Linked DNA regions of Homo sapiens. The protein of the gene in region 3 interacts with the protein of the main gene of each other region in a pairwise test. Each region holds a gene or a part of one and is shown on either strand. Other genes may lie near its edges.

Region 1 (7,536 bases), on a different chromosome or scaffold from region 3:
TCAGTCCTTTGTTCACAAGGCTCCAAAGACTTCATAGTGCCCTCAAAATAAAGTTCAAACCTCTTAACATGACCTACAAGGCTCAACTATGATCTAGCTTTAACCCACCTTTCCATCTTAGCTTTACTACACCCAGCCCTGGCTATCTCCCTGCTGTCATCTACTAATCCTCACCCTACAGCTGACCCTGTGCCAGCTGGCAACCCAGTCTTCTTCCTGTTCCCAGCTCCTACTTCTGAGCCTTTCACTTACTAGTCCTTCCTGGAAGGTTGTCTCCAGAGCCAGATCTACCCAAAGCTGGCTGGCTGGCTCCTCAGTATTCCAATTTCTTCAAATGTCTTCTCTGAGGCCTTTCTGGGTGGAACACCCTATCAAATATTACACCCCTTAAAACACGTGCCTCTATGTCTTCACAGGCTCTGAAACCTTTTCAGTCCTATTTACTATTGTACCCCAGTGCCCAGCACACAGCAAGTGCCCAATTACTTCCAACAACTCAGTTAATATATAAGCACCTACTACGTCCCAGGCACTATTCCAGGTAACAAGGACAGTGGTGAACGGCTCTCATGGAGCCTTATTCTCTGAGGGGAAGCAGACTAATAAATACCAAAGGGTAATATGTAGCAAGAAAAATGAAGGATAAGGCCAGGCTCAGTGGCTCACGCCTCTAATCCCAGCACTTTGGGAGGCTGAGGCGGGTGGATCACCTGAGGTCAGGAGTTCAAGACCAGTCTGGCCAACATGGCGAAACCCCGTCTCTACTAAAATACAAAAATTAGCTGGGCATGGTGGTGTGCACCTGTAATTCCAGCTACTTGGGAGGCTGAGACAGGAGAACTGCTTGAACCCAGGAGACAGAGGTTGCAGTGAACCAAGATTGCGCCATATACACTCCAGCCTGGGCAACAGAGCGAGACTCCGTCTCCAAAAAAAAGAAAGAAAGAAAGAAAAATGAAGGATAAGGGATAAGGGAGTGGAGTGAAGGACGGGCTATTTTATGTACGGCCATCAGAGAAGGCCTTGTCAACAAGACGGCATTTGGGCAGAGATCTGAAGAAGGTTAGGAGGTAAACAACTGAGCCACGGTTATCTTCCTCAGGCAGAGAAACAACATGTGCAAAGGCCCTGAGGAGAGATCCAGATAAGCACTGAAGTAACAGCAAGGATCTCATTGTGGAGCCTAAGGTACAAGTTGGAGAGTAGTAGGAGATGAGGTCAGAGAAGCAGCAGGGGCCTTGCAGGCCACTGAAAGGACTTGGATTTTACTCATTAAGAAGACATGGTAGGATTCTGGACAGAGGAAAGACAGGACTTGATGTAGGTTTTAAAAGGATCACTCTAGCTGTCTAGAGAAAAGATGGAAAGGAACCAGATTGCAGTGATAATGGCTTGCAATGGAGAATGAAAAGGGATTGTATTCTGGATATATGTCTCAAGTAGAGTCAATAGGATTTGCTGACAGATTGTGGGGTGTGAGAAAAACAAGAAAAATAAAAGATGACTCCGACAATTAACTTCAGCTCCTCTAATAACGGAGTTGCTATTCACTTCTAAGGCAAAGGGGGAAAGGGGATTCAGTTTTGGACACGTTAAGATGAAGATGACTCTTAGTCATCCAAGTCGTGATTTCAAGTAACTGCTGGATGCACAAATCTGGAAATAGGGAGACAGATCTGGACTGAAGATATTTATATTTATATTTCAGAATCTCCAGTTTATAGAAAGTATGTAAAGCCCTGAGGCTGAATGAATGAGACCACCTAAAGCTAGGGAGAGTCTATAGAAAAGGTCCTATAACTGATTCCCAAGGCACATCCTAACATTTAAAAGTCAGGAAGATAAGGAACCAGCAAAGGAAACCAAGAAGTAACACCCAGTGAAGACAGGGAAAGACAAGAAAATGTTATCCATAGGCCAAGTAAAGGGCTGAAATTAATGCCAGATCTTGCTATCTGACCTGCCACTGATTGAAGTTTTAAATCAGAAATTGGTGAATACAGATAACCTTCAGAAAACTGGCACTCTCTTGACAGAAATGTTACTCTGGACTGTTTCCTTCATGCTTAAGAAAATAACAAGGCCTTCCATTTCTGGACAAATGTACTCTTTGCCCATTCCTTCGTACATTCTATTACTACGTGGGGGACACTAAATTAGGTCTAGAGGGAAATGCAGAACAATACACTCGTTCTTTGTATCTCTGACTTTAAATCACTCCTATAGGAAAACCAAAACAAAAAAACTCCATAAACGTGAAAGGAACTCAGCTATAAGTTGGTGAAGTTGACACCTACAGGCCACCCACGTGGGTGACAGAGGGAGGTCAGAGGGCAATGCTCCAGGCGGACCTAATCGCCAGCGTCCAACAGATTGACAACTACCAACGACTAATCTCACTGCTTCCTTCACTGAGTGCGAAGAGCGGGAAGCACAATCTCACTATACCAGTGAAGTCAACCCCTCCCCACCAGGCCAGCCCACAACTCCAGCTATCCAGCACCCCGCTCCAGATCCCAGAGCCTCCCCGGGCCCAAAGGACCCCGCCCTAAACCGCCGGCGCCGGACCCACTACAAATCCCAGCAGGCACCGCGCGCCCGCAACATGCCAGCCTACGCTTAGCCGCCGCTGGGCCTCCTGGGGCCTGTAGTCTCCACGCCCCCCGTCTCCGGTAAGTACCTGAAAGCGATAAAGGAAGGCTTCGGGCCAGAGGAAGAGGTAGGCCGGGCTGATGAGGCCGAGTTTGCCGACCAAGGGCACGGCGACGGTGGCGGCGAACCAATAGCGCGTGATCGCCGGGATGCTCCTGAACCAGTCTCCGATGTCCGACATCTTCGACCCACAGGTAGCCAAGATGCACAAGACCGCCCGACTCCCCGTGCCGACCCCCTCACGACGCGGCCGGCTCCGCGACTGTTAGGTGTCTAGGTGGAAGCCGCCGAAGCCGCGATGCAGAAGGCGGAGACGGGCGGACGTGGCGCCACCGAATTCGGACCAGCGAGGCAGCCTTCTGAGGCGAAACTTCCCCTTCCGGCGACCGCGGACGACGTGACCAGAAGTCCCGCCGCTTAAAGGGTAAGCGCCGATTTTACCGCCCGGCCGAGGCTCGGCGTCCTGGGGGGCGGAGCCAGGTAGAGCGACTACACGACTGGTGGGAAAACAGTGGTTGCCTGGATCAACGGCAAACGCTCCGGCCAGTGGCGAGGCCAAATGCCATTCACCTAGTTCTCAGAGTTTTAATGCGGCTGGGTCCACCTGGAGGGTATTTAAAGGGGACGAAGGCAAACGAAGTGTCTAGTTCCTCGTCTGCTTACTCATTCCACAAGTGTTTGTTGGGCACAGTTCTAGACACTGGGCAGCTGCGGCTGTCAGCGCTGTCGTGGTACCCTCTCTCCTGATCTTAACATCCTCATTGGGATAATTTATAAACAAATAGATAATGAAGTAAGATAATCTCAGAGAGTGATTAGAAAAATAGGAAAATGAAATGAGATGATGAGGTGGAGTGACGGGGTGGGGGTGCGGCAGTGTGAGGACAGATGGCTACCTTAGGTATGAACTGGGCCAGCCAGGCAAGAGATCTGGGGGAAGAATTTTCCATGCACAGAGAAAAGCCGCTCTAACTAGGTTGGAATGTTGGAGGAACTAAAAGCCAAAATGATCCATCTTGTCTAATTCAACTTGTATAAGAAGGAATCTTTAAGAAAAGATACTGGCCAGGCGCGGTGGCTCACGCCTGTAATCCCAGCACTTTGGGAGGCCGAGGCGGGCGGATCACGAGGTCAGGAGTTCGAGACCAGCCTGGCCAACATGATGAAACCCCGTCTCTACTAAAAATACAAAAATTAGCCGGGCATGGTGGAGGGCGCCTGTAGTCCCAGCTACTTGGGAGGCTGAGGCAGGAGAATCGCTTGAACCCGGGAGGTGGAGGTTACAGCGAGCCGAGATTGCACCATTGCACTCCAGCCTGGGGGACAAGAGCCAGACTCCATCTCAAAAAAAAGAAAAAAAGAAAAGATACTGAGTAGAGTTTCCCGTTGTTTTGGGATTTGGGGCCAGCAGTTTAAGATTGCTAAAGTCTTCCAATAAAGAGCACCAGGAACAAACCTGTAGTCAACAAAGTTAGATTTATTAACTTGCTGCAGCAAGGGAGACTGCACTCCAGAGGAACCTCAATGCCTCTCATCAAACGGAAGTGTCATTATTGGGTTATGGGAATGGGGGGATTTTTTGGTAAGAATTAACTGGAGCAGTGTTTGATAGACTCGAAGCAAAGCAGAGCTGTGTGCAGCATCAGGTTAACATCAGACCTGAGTAGGAAGCAGGCTCTTTCCTTGGAAATCTCAAAATTACGACAAATGTGAAACGTTGGGTCTGAAAACTCTATCTAAAGCTTTGTACCTGTATTGAAAATCCTGTGTCAAAGTGACCTGTATGGCTCAGATGCTCTGGACAAGAATGGGATGTTCCATTCACACGGAAAGGATGTCAGACAGCAGAGTTTCCAACATTCCATAATTTTAGAGAATATTTGTCAGCACCATATCCTTGATGTTAATTAATAAAAACAGTTTTTTCATAACAAAAAGGCATTAAATATTCCACAGTGTAATGAGAGTATACAACATTTGGGAACCAATGGATAGCAAATCTACGAAGAACACAGCTGGTGGGAATATAAATTGATACAGCCTTACAAAAAGATAATTTTGATATAAAAGCTAGATATTTATATAAATAACAGATAATACTTGACGATATTGCCTGAGGTTTATTCTGTTTATTTCCCTCTACTACCACCACCATTGTTTTGTACCCACTACTCATAACCAAGGTACAGTGAAAGAAAACAGGGGTTATCTGGCTTAGGTGGAGGGCTAAGGAAAGTTTCTCTGATAAACTTAAAAGTACACGTGCATGAGAAAAGACAAGAACAAGAAAAATGTACACCCAATATCTGGCAGTGTTTATTTCTTTTTTTTTTTTTTTTTTGAGACGGAGTCTTGCTCTGTCGCCCAGGCTGGAGTGCAGTGGCGGGATCTCGGCTCACTGCAAGCTCCGCCTCCCGGGTTCAAGCGATTCTGCTGCCACAGCCTCCCGAGTAGCTGAGACTACAGGCGTCCGCCAGCACGCCCGGCTAATTTTTTGTATTTTTAGTAGAGACGGGGTTTCACCGTGTTAGCCAAGATGGTCTCAATCTCCTGACCTCATGATCTGCCCGCCTCGGCCTCACAAAGTGCTGGGATTACAGGCGTGAGCCACCGCGCCCGGCCTGGCAGTGTTTATTTCTAAGTTGTGCTCTAGAATTCATAGTGAATGCTCTGGAATTCAACTTCGGCCTTTAGAAACACTGAAGTTTAAATCAGAGCAACGGTAGGCCAGGTATGTCTGGTCTTTTCTTGTAACTTTACATTCAAAGGCTTTCTGGCTGGTCCGATGGTAGTGATTTATCAGAACTTATTAACATTAGTGTCACTAAAGTTGGTATACAACCCCCCACTGCTAAATTTGACTGGCTTTTAAAAATATTTATTATTTTTAAATAATATTGAATATTTATTAAATTTATTATTAATTTATTAATAATATTATTTAAATAATTATTTTTTAAAGGCTTTCTCTTTCTACAAAGTCTTAATAATCATTTTAATGACTAATATTCTACTAGTGATGTGGCAGAATCTTTTGACCATTTTCCTATTTCTGATACCTGTTTTTAAATACTATATATAGTTCTATAATGAATACCTTTATGCATATACATTTTATACTAATAGCTAACTTTTTTATTTACTAATATCTAACATTTGCTGAGTGTCTACAGTTTGATTGGCACTCAGCTATGCCCTTTATGGGCATGGTTTTAATTAGTCTTTACAACAATGCTTCAACCCTATGAAGTACTTTTATTTCCATTTACAAATGAAGAAACAGCCTTAGAGAAGTTAAGTAACTTGGCACTTGCCGGCAGGTGCATATATAAAACTTCAACCCAGATCTATTTAAAGCCAAAGGTGGTGCTTTTTTTTTTCTTTTTTTTTCTTGAGACAGCGTCTCCCTCTCGCTTCTGTCACCCAGGCTGGAGTGCCAGTGGCGCAATCTCGGCTCACTGCAAACTCCGCCTCCTGGGTTCAAGCAATCCTCCTGCCTCAGCCTGCCAAGTAGCCAGAATTACAGGTGTCCACCACCATGCCTGGCTACTTTTTTGTATTTTTAGTAGAGACAGGGTTTCGCTATGTTGGCCAGGCTGGTTCCAAACCCCTGGCCTCAAGTGATCCACACACCTCGGCCTCCCAAAGCGCTGGGACTACAGGCATGAGCCACCACGCCCAGCCCAAAGGTGGTGCTCTTTCATTCATTTATTCAGCAATGCTTTTGTCCAGTGCTTGTTATATACCAATAACAGTTCTAAACAGTGAACTAAACTGACAATTATCTCCACCCTCTTGGAACTTACATTCTAGAGGAGGCAGAAAGACAACAGAAAGAGATAAAAGTAAGATGTACAGGCTGGGCGCGGTGGCTCACGCCTGTGATCCCAGCACTTTTGGGAGGCCAAGGTGGGCAGATCACCTGAGGTCAGGAGTTCGAGACCAGCCTGGCCAACATGGGGAAACCCCGTCTCTACTGAAAATACAAAAATTAACCGGGCATGGTGGCATGCGCCTGTAATCCCAGCTACTCAGGAGGCTGAGGCAGGAGAATCACTTGAACTCGGGAGGTGAAGTTTGCAGTGAGCTGAGATTGCGCCATTGCACTCCAGCCTGGGCAACAAGAGCGAAACTCCTCTCAAAAAAAAAAAAAAAAAAAGTAACATGTACAGTAGGTAAACTGGCAATAGGAATAGGAAAAGAAAAAAGAAGAAAAGGAGATTTGGGCTGGTGAGGGAAGGCCTCACTGCAAACTCAGAAGATATTGAGTACACGTCTCAGGGTGGTGAAAGAGCAAGCAGTGTGGAGATCTGGAGGAAGAACAGTTCAGATAGAAGGAATGGCAAAGACCTTGAGGTGGGAATGTGGCTGGCATGGAGACCTTAAACACGAAGACCCATGTGGCTGAGTGGAGCGAGAGTGGGGATGGAGGGTCAAGAGACAAAGGAAGGAGAGAGTCACTGGAATCATGGAGGACACTGTAGGTTATGGAAAGGACCTTGTATTTTACTGTTCTTACCCACTAGGCCACACTGCCTCTCGATCCTTTTGTTGAACTGATTTCCAGGAGTAGGATTTAAAATAAAAAGATATTAACAGCTCAATGACTTTTCCTCCCAGAGGTGGTGTGATTGTGAACCTAATCAAACTTAGGCTACAGGACCCCTCACTTGCACAGGCCTTTCCAAGGCTCTGTGCAAAACTTTGTAAATTTTTTTTTTTTTTGAGACAGAGTTTTCACTCTCTTGCCCAGGTTGCCCAGGCTGGCATGCAGTGGTGTGATCTCGGCTCACTGCAACTTCTGCCTTCTGGGTTCAAGCGACGCGCGTGCTTCAGTCTCCCAAGTAGCTACGATTACAGGCACCTGCAACCATGCCCAGCTAA
Region 2 (6,867 bases), on a different chromosome or scaffold from region 3:
GTTCCTATCTAGCCCTCCCACTTTACCTGCAATATCCCACAGCTGAAGCCGCACTATCTCGTAGTCAGACCACTGGAGAACCTTCAGAGCAAAATCCACTGAAAATATATGTACATTATACTTTAATAAAATTTCACTGTAAAAAATTAATAGGGATAAACTCAAATCAAATAGGCAGTGAAACCCTATGGACACACAACTCCAATCCCATATGTTTAACTTTAAGCCCTCAATTCACTGAGATGAGTCCACATGCGTGTATTTAGTGTGAGATGGATGATTCATACTCACTCTCCAAAGGGGTTTCCAGCTTTTACTCTACTGTCAAGCTCATTTATTTGCTACTGTTTGTCTCCAAGACTGGGGGTGGGAGTAACTATGAAAACAATTCTCATTCTCAGGTTAAATAGTTTCTGGGAGATTTAGGGGGTTTTCTCAGGGAAGGGGTGATGGGGGAGAAGGGGGAAATGAGACAAGTGTGGTTGCTTTCGTATCTTCCACATTCAATTTCACTGTTGGTTTCTAATCAAATTGTATTATGAAAAGAACACACCCTGGGGAACTCTACATCCACCATAAGGTTGCAGGTATTATCTTGGGCAAGAATGGAATAAATGGAAAAGGTCCCAGAGGAGTCCCAAGAAGAAGACACTGTGTGGATGTTGCTGAAGAGTCCTGCTGGAATCTACCACCAAGTCTGCAGGTGCTGAGACTCCTTAAGGCTGAGTAAGTATTCCATGGGGAAAGCCTTTTGGCTAAGGAGAGAAACAGAGTAATTTCTGAGGTTTGGAAATATTATCTTTCACATCTGTGACAGGAATCAAAGCTAAGGGAAATTTAGACTAAACACTGAAAAAAAAATTAGCCAATTATATTCTTTGCTAAAGGAAAACTACAGCAATTGTTAAAAATTAACTATTAATAGCAGGCCACTTTTAACCCAAATCCGTGAAATAGGGACCCTTATATTATTTAGGAGTGGGAGGGCAGAGCGGTCAGGATAGAGTGTCTGAAACTTTGAACCTTTAATTTTGCCAGACTTAAATTTTTTGTTCCTTTGTTTTTGAGACAGGGTCTCACTCTGTTGCCCAGGCTACAGTGCAGTGAGTGGTGCGAACGGGGCTCACTGAAGCCTCGACCTCCCCAGTTCAAGCAATCCTCTCGTCTCAGTTTCCCGAGTAGCTGGGACCACGGCTACTTTCTTCTTTAATTTTTGTAGAGGTGGGGGTCTTGCCATGTTTCCCATGGCTGGTCTCGAACTCCTGGGCTCAAGCAATCCTCCCGCCTCAGCCTCCTAAAGTGCTGGGATTGCAAGTATGAACCACGGTACTGGGCCCTACTGGGGGTTCTTAAGGAGAATGTTTTAATTGCAATGTAAATGTTTGTTAATTTCTTTTTAAACTTCCATATGAACAGGAGCACACATTTTCAATTTTTCCATTGGTACGAGTTTTCCCCCCTTGAAACAAGTTCTTTTAACAGAGAGAAATAAAATTTTAAGTTACTCTCCCCCATCACCAGCTCTTCCTAGCTAAATACCTTCTAATTAACAATAAGGCATTTCTGCCTCTGAAAAAATAGTTGAGTCCAAAGGCCACACCCGGGAAAGAAATGAATGAACTCGGTGTCCCCTTCCTCCCTACCTTCTCCAGTTTGAGGAAAAAAGTGGTGGGAAGATAGGTCAGAGAAGTGGTATATTTCACATTCTTGGAAGAATTCCTTGGTTACCTTTATTTAAGCAATCAACGGACAAAAACACAGCTCATCAGCCCTCATGGGCATCTGACTGCGTAGCCAAGGGGCTCGTTCGGGGATTTTGTGTCTTCCATCCCACCCACAGCCCCACAACAAAGCTACAGTCCTTCAGACCAGTTCCGCTTCCTGCGTTCTCCCACTGAAGCCAGGTTAAACACCTTGCGGTTCCTCCCTCAACAGAGGGGCAGGACTACAGCCCCAGCCGGCACCTAACCAGGAGGCCCCACAGAGGATCTCAGCTGCTTCTGCTGATTGGAGAGATTTGCCGGACAGCTGAAAGGCTGGAGACTTAAGTTCACAGTACGCCTGCAATAAACAGCAATTGCTCATCCTCATCCTCCCTTCCCTATTTCTCATCTTCACGCCTTTGCTCTTACCTTTCTCCTGGCAGTGGGCTCAGTTTGGGAAAATCTAACGGGAAACTCAAGAGAGGCGTGTAAACCAAACACCCGGCAATTACACCATCTAGGTTCCCAGACAGTACTTCCTGACCCGAAGAAGGACCCAACAACCGACAGCAAATCCCCACCCCACTTGGGTCCCCAGCTCGAGTCCGCGGTCGGGGCCTCCTCCTCCCCCTCCCCCTCCCCACCCCCGAGACGTCTCACCTCCCACCGTGGACTTGTAGTGTTTGCTGAAGCTGTCCTGGGAATATCGCTGCACCAGCGACGTCTTGCCCACTGCGGCGTCCCCCACCACCAGCACTTTGAACAGGTGGTCGCGGCTGCCCATGGCTAGCGGGGTGTGCGTTTTAGGGAGGCGGGAAGTGTGGTCGGGGATCGGGGGTCGCTCGTTTTAACCCCTTTGGATCCGGACCCTCTTCAAACTGAAGTGAGGCATTCCCACCCACCGCCTGTCTGGGCTGCTCTGACGAGAAAGCAAAAAAGGAAACTTTGCACTCAACCTATACGCGCTTCCTCCCCGGGCGGCCGCAACCTGGGTGGGGCGCAGGGCGCGAGCTCCGAGCCCCCGGCTGTTCGCACCTTCCCCACCCCCTCCTGGCCTGACTGCCGAGAAACTGGACCAGGCGCCGCGGAACCTCACCCACCGGGACTTCCCCCGAGCGGCTCCAAGTCAGTGACTGAATCCCAGTCAGCTCCTTACACCACTGGGGCCAGATGATGGGGACCCTCCCCTTGCAGCACAAACCAAATTGTGAGGAAGGAGCAGCCGGCACCTCGATTCCCTAGACGCCCTCCCGCGCGCCTCTCTCTCCCCTTCCTCCGCAAGCGTCACGTGCAGGGTTGCCTGTGGCACTACATTTCCCAGCTTTCCTCGCGGTAAAGAGAACCAGCCGAGTGCGGAGGCTCACCGCGAAGCCTCCTGGGAAATGTAGTATATTCGTTATTTTGTTTTAAGCAAACCTACACCAAGTTTCAAGGCTTCAAACTCCCTCGACAGTTTGGAATCTTATTTTGAAACAATTCTAGGTCAGTAAAGATCCCTTAAGGGGAGATTTGTGCAACGTGATCTCACTGGCCTGAATCCATCCCCAGATAGTTTTCTCCTGTCTTTAAAGGTTTAACTGAGTTAAGATTGAAACTTATTTCATTAGTAAAAGCCCAAGCCTCATCCATCATGCTCCAAGTGAAGTCCATTTCCTATTCCTTCAAGTAGATAGACAAGCCCAGGACTTTGTGAAATGACTCATATTTTCTGTGTGAACTTGCCCAATACCAGGCAAGTTCAGGAAAACTTGACCCAAGAGACCAGTCTTTGGAAAAAAACCTATGCCAAAAATTACAGCATTTAATATCCAGCAATAACAATAAAGATGGACAGAAAACAAGAGACAGTTCTCCATTCATACTTCTACAATGCCTATTCTAGCCATACTACTCATGTATCACTTGAGCTAGAAGCTAATTGAAATACACTGGGACTCCTTCTTGATTTGTTGTGGCTGTTGTTAATAGATAATCATAAAACTAGTGTTTGGCAAATAATTTTAATTTCTCAGCCTGTAACTTTACTGACCTACCTGTCACTTGGGTAGAAGTTGGCAGGACATGAGCTCAATGGCAAGCAAAGAGAGCTCCATTTTCTATACTTTTCTAGGAATAGAGGAAGAGAACCAGCGGGGCCATGGGAAAACAGCCCAGGACCAGACACTAGGAAATCTAGGTCTCTTGATAGAGAGGCTATCACTTATGTTTTGTGGCGAAAGAACATCAGCATGGTTCACAATATATTTTGCCCAGAATGTTCGTTACCCAGGTACAGGAGGTTAGTTCAAGCTACTCATCTTTAAGGATCCAGTTTTCTCTGTTCTTATTCGTTTTGACATAGTTGACCACTCCTTGACATTTGTTTCCCTTATGCCTTCTATGACGCTGTTCTTTCTTTGTCATCCCCGTACTTCTCTGATGATTATCTTTTTCTTTCAGGTTTCTCTCCATCCCATTTCCCGCTAAGTATTTCCTAAGGCCTGATTCTTGGTCTCTGAGTCAATCATTCGATAAACTCTTTAGTGAATTGTCCTTGGTGTCAAAGATCTATCTTCACTTTATTTGTTCTTTATCTCTGATCAGTGATATTCTGTCAAGACCAGCTCTGTTGGGGAGACCCTAACCCAGTGGCGCTAGAGGAATTAAAGACACACACACAGAAATATAGAGGTGTGAAGTGGGAAATCAGGGGTCTGATTTCCTTTAGAGCTTTTAGAGCTGAGAGCCCCGAACAGAGATTTACCCACGTATTTATTAACAGCAAACCAGTCATTAGCATTGTTTCTATAGATATTAAATTAACTAAAAGTATCCCTTATGGGAAACGAAGGGATGGGCCGAATTAAAGGAATAGGTTGGGCTAGTTAACTGCAGCAGGAGCATGTCCTTAAGGCACAGATCACTCATGCTATTGTTTGTGGCTTAAGAATGCCTTTAAGCGGTTTTCCACCCTGGGCGGGCCAGGTGTTCCTTGCCCTCGTTCCTGTAAACTTACAACCTTCCAGCGTGGACGTTAGGGCCATTATGAACATGTTACAGTGCTGCAGAGATTTTGTTTATGGCCAGTTTTGGGGCCAGTTTATGGCCAGATTTTGGGGGGCCTGCTCTCAACATGTCCCTCTTCTCTGATTTGCAAATTGATAAATGCAAAGGCAGCTTTGTCACGGTGAGCTACTTCTCGCAGGAGTCAGGATACACATCTGCAGACTATACAAAGACAAACAACACAGATTAAAAGCACAATCATCATTGAAATCACAGAGCTTCCAAGTGTTTTTATCCATTTTCGGCTCCTTTAAGCACTCCAGTTCCTGGCATTAAGGTCAAGTGTGCCTCGGATGCTTTAAATATTTCTTCTTTTAATTTTAAATCCTTATGTTAAGCTCCTAGAGCGGGCCATATCATTTGAGGTTGAGGTGTCACTATACTGCCATGGTTCCAGATAATAGGAACTCTTGCTGTACTTCTTATTATATCTACCATCTGACCATTTTGTTCAGACCAGCTGAACATAGTGTGGCCGTGGCACGCAGACTGAGAGGTGCAATTCAAGCTAAACATCCCCTTAGGGGACCAATTAATAATGATTCCATAGGAATCATTGTGCAGCATCTCTGCCTGTTCTGCAATGCAATCTTCCTAAACAAGTACGTTCATTTTTTCTAACTGGGTCCAATCCTGTTTACAAATAAGTTTTTGAGGGCGGTATGCCTCAATTATAGGAGCAGATTTATTATGGTAAATACTGAGATCAGAAAGCATGTGTAACTGCGTCATAAAGTGATTGCATCCAGGCATTATTGCCAGCCAAGATTGATAAATATACCCAATAAGTATAATTGTTCTCTGTGTCAGCCCTTAATGAAGGAATACTCACGGCACTGGTGATAACCGCTATCATAGCTACCATTAACACTTTATTTGTTCTTTATCTCTGATCAGTGATATTCAGCTGCCCAAAAGGTGCCCCCACTTGGATGTCCTGCCACATCCTTCCTCTTACTACATTGCCATAAAAATAGCTCCTTTTCTCAGCTTCCCTATTTCTGTCACTGGTCTCATCATTTCTTGCCTCCATGTAGACTTCAGATTCTGAGCATTATTATTTCCTTTACACATGTCCCTTTATACCTATTTATTTGTTTGTTTGTTTATTGAGATGGAGTCTCACTCTGTTGTCCAGGCTGGAGTGCATTGGCATGATCTTGGCTCAGTGCATCCTCTGCTTCCTGGGCTCAAGTAACTCTTGTGCCTCAGCCTCCTGCGTAGCTGGGACTACAGGCGCATACCACCAAGCCTGGCTAATTTTTGTATTTTTTTTGTAGAGACAGGGTTTTACCATGTTGGCCAGGCTGGTCTTGAACTCCTGACCTCAAGTGATCTACCCGCCTCAGCCTCCCAAAGTGCTGGGATTACAGGCGTGAGCCGCCGCACCTGGTCTATACCCTTTTAAAAAAAATTCAGTTACCATGTCTGATTGATTGTTTCTTCAGTAAATGGTTTCTCCCACTCATCCTCTCTGCTTCATATTCAGTAATACTTTCCTTTTTTTTTTTTCTCCAACTTTTATTTTAGGTTCAAGGGGTACATGTGCAGGTTTGTTACACGAGTAAACTGCATGTTGCGCGAGTTTGGCTTACAGATAATTTTGTCACCCAGGTAATCAGCAAGTAACACTTTCCTAGTTCAGGCTTTCACCATCTCACACCTGGATTCCTGCAGTAACCTGTTTATTGGTCTCCCTGAATTTATTTTCTTTTTAACTCACCGTCTACAACTGGACAGGATGGTTTTCCTAAAACACCATTGTTTGTTCTTCCTTGTCTACCAACTGTCTTTCAAAAAAAAAGGCCAACCTCCCTGAAGCTGGTGTCCAAAGCTTTCTATGCACCTGCCCCGGCCTACCTAACCAATTTTATCTCACCCGACTTCAAATGGGAGTTTCCTTCTTCCAACAAGGTGAGGTTCCTTATGCTCTTTTAAAGCCCAATGTCATTTTTGATTTTCTGTTTTTGTCCAGGATGCATCACCTTTCAGAATACTCTTCAGGTTTCTTTCTACACATCTAAATCTTACTTAAATATTATTAAGAAAATCAAAAGGAAGAGAAACTATATTATTCACTAAGTGGGAGTGGATTGTCTTAAAGGTCACCGAAGGTTCT
Region 3 (7,023 bases):
TATGATGTGCTTAGTATAGCACCAGGGAAGTAGTATACTTGTAATAAATGCTAATGAGCTAATGATTATTTTCATATTTGGTGAATTTTACAACTTCTGATTTACACTAAGAGAAAAGCACAGGAGAATTATGCACAGTAAAAGGAATAAGTATAACATGCAAGTCCACATAATGTTCTGCTGGAGTACAGTGGATGGAATGATGGATTCTACCTAACAGACTTGGGGAAGGCTTCCCAAAAGCAGTTTCACTCCTAAGATATGTCTTGAAAGAAATGAAGGAATGAGGATAAAGGTACTTTAAGCAAAGAAAACCATGTAAGCAAAAGTGTGGAGGCTTTTTTTTTTTTTTTTAATCATGTCACAGAGTTTATTGTGTCATGTTTGGGGGCCTAGGAATCATCCACAGAAGCAGAAAATTGTGATGATTAGTTTTAGGTGATCTGCAAAACATCAGATCAGAAAATACACATTTTCCACGCATCTATCCTCCTACTTACTCACCTATCCACCCATCTAAGTTTAGGTATCTTGTTCTGTACTAGATACAAGAGGTCTTTAGGATACAGATCCTGCTCTTCAGATATTCAAACTTTATAAAAGACAAGACATGTAGGTAAATAATAATGAAGGCAGAAAGTGGTACTATAAACGAAATAAAAACTAAGTTTGATGGGGGTTGAGGAGTCATTCCAATCTGAAGGGATACAGAATTTTCAAAGGGAAGATGACATTTTATATTGGCCTGGAAAGATGCATAAATACATGGAGAGGGAAGAAAGAAGTGGGCAAAAGGCACAACCTTAACAAAGTATAAAAGGCAAAGGAAAGGACAAGAAGTTTCATGTATTAGAAAGAAAACAGAGAATACTTAAACTCTATGCATTTTATTTTCTCCACCTTTAAAATGGAAAAATACTGTCTTTACAGAGTTAATGTAAGAATGAAATAATATATAGAGTGTATAGAATGCTAAGATTTGGCTCTGCACCAAAAAAGCCTTTAATGAATTTTAGTTCTCTTTTTTATTATCCTTAGATTAAAACTGTGGGAGTATATATGGGGAATAGAGTAACAGACTTGGAAAGGTAAATTGGGGGAATAATTATAAAAGGTCTTCAGAGCCAAAATGAGATTTTTGAGCGTCATTTTCAAGGGCATGGTGAGGTGATGAATGTTTTGAAGCAGGAAGATGATATGATCAAAGCAGGAATGGAGTGGGGAAACATCAGAGAAGACGGGGATAATGGGGAGTCTGAACTAGGGAGCAGGTGGTGGAAATGGAAAGATTCATTTGAGCAATATCCAGAAGTATAGTCAGTAAGATTTGAAAGGTGAGTGGATTATGGTGGGGGAGTGGTGAAGAGCAGAGATAGCCAAAGACTCAAGCCTAGATGATTTAAAAAATAGCAGTGCCTTATCAAGACAGTTTATTTCTGGCTTAGAGTACCCTCTGCGTCACCCAATACAAACCATGAACACTCCAACCCTCTTGATATACATATACTTATGAAGTTGACCCAGAGAGATCTCAGTGCTCTGTAGCCTTAGGTCACTGTCAACGTATACCCCAAATCAGAATGAATAGGTCTAGCAAGTTGAGGCATATGATAAAGTCAGCATTTCATAAACGCAAATCCTACAGCTGTATCTGTGCAGTCTTGTGATCTGCAGATGGTCAACCACCCAGGAGAAGGAGGAAGTGGAGGGCAAGTTCGTTTGATTTTAAGGACAATGCATTTAGCTCAAGAACACTTTGCACATGACATCAACTCTTTCTCCAGGCATAGAGAAGAAGGGGAGTTAATGTAGAGATATACATTACAACAAATTTCTACCATATTAGCTTTGGAATGCAATCTGACAAATATATAGCAGCAGACATGCACAATTATCTAAAGTTAATCCTTCCTCCCTGATATCCCACTTCCTTTGTACTGCAAGGGAAACTATGCATCTAGTGCCTATTATATGCTAGTTACTATGACAGATACTTTATATGCTTAATCTCTTTTAATCTTCATGATGACACTATGAAGTGGTAATATTTTTATTATCCTATTTTACAGATGAGGAAACGAATGCTCAGAAAAACTTGCTCAAGGTCACACAGCTCAAACATAGTGGAACCTTGAAGTACAGATATTTTTACTTTATTTAACCCAACATTATTTCAAGCTATTTTTTACTGTCACATAACAATGATTAACTAATGTTCCCTTGACCACGCTCTGGGGAATGCTGCCTTATAGCATACGCATTTTCTCCATAACACAGAAGGAACACTAATATAGTTATGAGATTCTGCTGCTATAGAGTGGGATAGATTGATTTATTAGCTGAGTGACCTACTCTCACACAGCAAGCTTGCAACCCATTATGACTCAAATCCATACCTCAGCAAAATAATATTTACCATATATCATGAGCGTATGAGGTCTGATGTGGATATCTGAAACTATGAATGGTAAATTCTTAAATGCCAAGTGTCTAGGGGCAATAGCATAGACATACTGATAGAAATTACAACTCAGGGCCAGGCGTGGTGGCTCATGCCTGTAATCCCAGCACTTTGGGAGGCTGAGGTGGGCGAATCATGAGGTCAGGAGATCGAGACCATCCTGGCTAAGACGGTGAAACTCCGTCTCTACTAAAAATACAAAAAAAAAAAAAAAAATTAGCTGGGCGTGGTGGCAGGCGCCTGTAGTCCCAGCTACTCGGGAGGCTGAGGCAGGACAATGGCATGAACCTGGGAGGCGGAGCTTGCAGTGAGCCGAGACGCGCCACTGCACTCCAGACTGGGTGACAGAGCGAGACTCCATCTCAAAAAAAAAAAAAAAAAAAAGAGAAATTACAACTCAGGATCCATGCAACCCTTCTCAATTCTAAATCAATAGCTACAGTTCTCTCTTCTATCATCTGGGACAACAGACTGAGGACATTTGGAGTTTGAATCTAGAACGTTACCTTACAATGCACAGGGACATCTGTGTTCTTCCCAGAGCTGGCAGTGCAGATCAGTTTATTAAACAAGGCTGCCAACTTGTAAAAATAGCAGCAAATTATTTCCCAAGCTTTCTGGAATATCATATCCCTCCTTCAATTGAAAAGCTTCCTACCTCTCTGTCTAAGACATCAGGTTTAAAAAAATGAATTTACTATGCCCACATCCCCAAATTATCTCAGCTGACTACAGCTTCACCAAGCTCTCTGAGGATGTCAAGAATTCCTGCCCCAAAGCTGCCATGCTTTGCCAGGAAAACCTGTGTTCCCCTCACTAAAGCATGAGGCACGGAAATAGTCTCAAACCTGGAAAAAGCCAGAACCACTTTTCCCACTTCCATGACTTGAAAACACTGCTTTGTGAAGGATCTTAGCCTGAAATGGAGCTAAGAGACAGGCAGATAGAGCCCGTCTCCTCCAGAAGGGCACATCTGGTCATTACTGTAATACTGAGAATGACTCAGATAGAAGGTCAATTTGACTTCAGTTTCCCCAAAAGACTACACAAATAAAAGGAATTGTCTTATCATTCCAAATCTTTAAGTAAGCTGCCCATTTTCTGCCAGCTATCAACTGTACAACCAATCAGAATGAGTATCCAACATGCTATGTATCATCTTGGCTCCCTTCATGATCCCTTGAATGTCTGTTTCCTGTTGTGCACTTTGTGCCATTAATTCTTGACCTCCCACCTCATCTAACATCAGCCTACCATCTTCCCACATCCCTTGACCTAATGATTAATACTGTACATCCCATACCATACTGTACTAGCACATCTCTTCAGCTCCCGATGAGAATCTGTCCCTTAAGCTGTGTCTACTCTGGCTGCCCTAAGACTCAGAAAAATTACATAATTATATTCCATATTAATCTCGCCTCTTCTAGCACCACTGGGTTTTCCCCATTCCATGAAATGAGTAACCAAGGTAGTAGAAAAAGCAAACAAAACAAAAGAATGAACCTTAAAGTTATATAGGACTGAGATCATATCTTAGCACTGTCACAAGTTGTGGGGAAGCAGGCAATTTATTTAACCTGTCTAAACCTGTTTTCTTAGTTTATAAAAAGAGTACTGTAATGACTATGGAAAATGCATATAAAGTACTTAGCCTGATACCCTTAGGTGTACAATAAAAGGATGCTAAATAAATAATAACCAGAAACAGCATTAACAATAACTAGTACTAGTATTAATAACGCATTCAGTTTACAAACTACATTTTGAAAGCATGAACAACCTTTCCTTTCATGGCATATAAAGGCATATAAAGATTAATAAAAGGGCTGGTCAGTTTTGAAGAGTTTTGATTGAGAATGCCAGACATACAGGCTAAAAACTGATGGGTAAATGAATTTACAACTTGTCTTGCCCAGAAAATGAGCTGCTGTAGCTCCTTCAAGCAGAGACTAAGTATGAAATGCTAGAATTCGTAGCAATCTCCTTACTTGAGACCAGGAAGTGGAGGTTGCAGTGAGCTGTGATGATGCTACTGTACTTCAGCCTGGGCAAAAGGGGAAGAAAAGGTAGTAATCTCAAGTTGTAAAATAGATGAGAAAACTAAGACCAGGAGAGGGAAATTAAGACCACAAATCACACAACAGAACTAGGACTAAAAGACACGAACTAGGAGTGGACAGTATTATATAGATTAAGGAAGCAGGCCTGAGGGATCAGGCTTTCCTGGATTTGAATTCAAGCTCTACTACTTATTGTGGAGACGTGAGCAAGTTATTAATACTTCTGTAGTTCTCAGTTTATCTATGGAAAGGGACTTTAAAATAGTATCTTCCTCACAAAGTTATTGCAAAGATTAAATGAGATTATGTGTGTAAAGCACTAAGTACAGTACCAAGCCAGGCATGCAATTAACTATACATAAATAATAGTTTTTATTATTATTAGCAGTAGCAGCAACTGCTGCTGCCACCACCCAACCTATTAGAAGAAATGAATAGGCACTTTTCAGCAGACTGTACCCAAGGCCCCAGATACATAAACCTAAATAATAAAAATTCTAAGCCCTCCTAGAAATTGTTTTACCTGATCCCAGAATCTAAAGATTAGAGATGATCTAAGGTTTCAAATCTTCACCTAATGCTTGAATTGCCACCATGGGGTGGTTCTCTAGATATCTCCATTTCCTTTACCTATATCAGCCTTTGGTGGCTTAGGCCATGAGCAAAACTGGAGAACTTTAAGCAATTAACAAAACAAATCTTTACTAAGCACCTACTATGTGTCTGGCCCTGTGAACGGTACTGGTGATACAATTTTGAGCAAAAACCAGACATAAACAGTGCTTTCCCCTAAAAACTAGACAACATGTAAAATATTGCATTTCCTTTCACAAGACATAAAGGTCCATCCTACTATTGACACGCTCCCCTGGTTTGACTGGGTTTTTTGCAAGGTTTATCTCATTTCCTTTTATGTCAGCTTTCTAAACTTTATTCCTCATGCATTCTAACAGAATGCTAATCAAGTGCAAAACTATCACTGTGCCACCAAAGGCCACTCGTTAGCAGGACTGACTTTAACGAATTCAGTGAGGTCATCACCTGACATCCACTCCTGTGTGTGGGAGAGGATTCTGATGAAGTTTAGATTACTCAGGGCATTTAAGGCACCTGCAGACAACTAAGATAAACTCAACAAGTAGGGGCTTATAGGGAAACACAGGCATGCTCCTGAAGTTGTACCAGTCTGGGGCAAACAAAACGATCCAGAAGGAAGTATGTTTGTAGAGAAAGAAAACTTTAGCTAAATTACTAAGTTAAACATAGCTAAACTATGTCAAGGGCAGGCTAAATGAATAATAGGGTTTCCTGGAAAACATGCTTGCCTGTTGTCTCTGTCTTCCTCTAAAACTGCAGGACCTAGAAAGACTCCCTTGCATCTTTCACAAACATTTGAGTAGTACCTACGCTGCCAGTATGACTCAAGGAATATAAGACAAAGGAAAAATCAATAGCCCCTTCTCAGGGACCTCCAACTAACCTCAACCCTCTCTCTCTTTCAATTCCTTTCTCTGCATATAACATCTGTTCATTTAATCATGAGATTATGATTAAAGGATCAAGGAGATCCTAGGAAATATACAAAATGGGATGAGAATTTTGGGGAGACTAGCAGAGACTACTTAGGGTTATCAAAATCTGGCAAAGAGCCTGAGCAACAGAGTGAAACACCATCTCTACAATAAATTTAAAAGATAATCAGGTGTGGTGGCATGCACTTGTGGTCCCAGCTACTTGGGAGGCTGAGATGGGAGGATCACTTGAGCCTAGGAGGTTGAGGCTGCAGTGAACTGTGATTGCACCACTGCACTCCAGCCTGGGTGACACAGCAAGACCCTGTATAAATAAATAAATATGACAAAGCAACACTTAGTTCTCTTCCAGCACTGCCTTCCTCTCATAATTGCTAACACTCTTAAAGCAACTACTATTTATTGTCAGGCATTTTTTTATATGTTCTCATAGTCTCATAATAACCATGTAAAGTAAGTGTGATTCCTCTTCAAAAATAAGGAAACCAATGCTCAGAGAAAGTAGCCTGTCCAAGGTCTCAAAACCAATAAGTAATAGAGCAAGGATTCAAATCCCAGTATCAACTCCCAGCCATAAAATTACTAACTTAAAGGATGTTTCATAGTTCCCTAGCTTTAGACAAAGTCTGGCTGAGAGGTTGGTAAGGGCACCTAGAAATGATTTTTAAATTTGATTGTTTTACCAGAAAGACAAGATGGAGGGAATGTCACAAAGGTTACACATCAGTGTGCATAGACAATGATCTACTTTAAGGGCCTTATAAACTTCTGGCTTCCAACTATTCTCCAGACATAAACATAGGGGCTCTGAAGGGTTGGAAAAGGCTTCTAATAAAACTACTATAATGTAACATAGGTGTAAGACAGAACTGGGTTTGTATCCCAACCTAGCTACTTGCTCTGTAGCCCTGGGTAAGTCATTTAACCTGTTATTTTTCTTATCTGTAAACAAGGAATAAAACCTAGA

The links. The genes of interacting proteins can lie anywhere in the genome.
Region 1: the proteins of TRIM32 (region 3) and DERL1 interact in binary tests that used the Homo sapiens proteins (3 or more experiments, as listed by UniProt).
Region 2: the proteins of TRIM32 (region 3) and RAB29 interact in binary tests that used the Homo sapiens proteins (3 or more experiments, as listed by UniProt).

What each region holds. Positions count from the first base shown.
Region 1 is NC_000008.11:123,039,290-123,046,825, forward strand, and holds the start of DERL1 (derlin-1), read right to left. Parts: upstream 3,014-7,536; 5' UTR 2,834-3,013; coding exon 2,681-2,833; intron 1-2,680. UniProt on the Homo sapiens protein: Functional component of endoplasmic reticulum-associated degradation (ERAD) for misfolded lumenal proteins. Forms homotetramers which encircle a large channel traversing the endoplasmic reticulum (ER) membrane.
Region 2 is NC_000001.11:205,772,470-205,779,336, forward strand, and holds the start of RAB29 (ras-related protein Rab-7L1), read right to left. Parts: upstream 3,014-6,867; 5' UTR 2,804-3,013; exon of another isoform or gene 2,618-2,803; 5' UTR 2,488-2,617; coding exon 2,364-2,487; intron 99-2,363; coding exon 27-98; intron 1-26. UniProt on the Homo sapiens protein: The small GTPases Rab are key regulators in vesicle trafficking. Essential for maintaining the integrity of the endosome-trans-Golgi network structure.
Region 3 is NC_000009.12:116,690,282-116,697,304, reverse strand, and holds part of TRIM32 (E3 ubiquitin-protein ligase TRIM32), read right to left. Parts: intron 1-7,023. UniProt on the Homo sapiens protein: E3 ubiquitin ligase that plays a role in various biological processes including neural stem cell differentiation, innate immunity, inflammatory resonse and autophagy.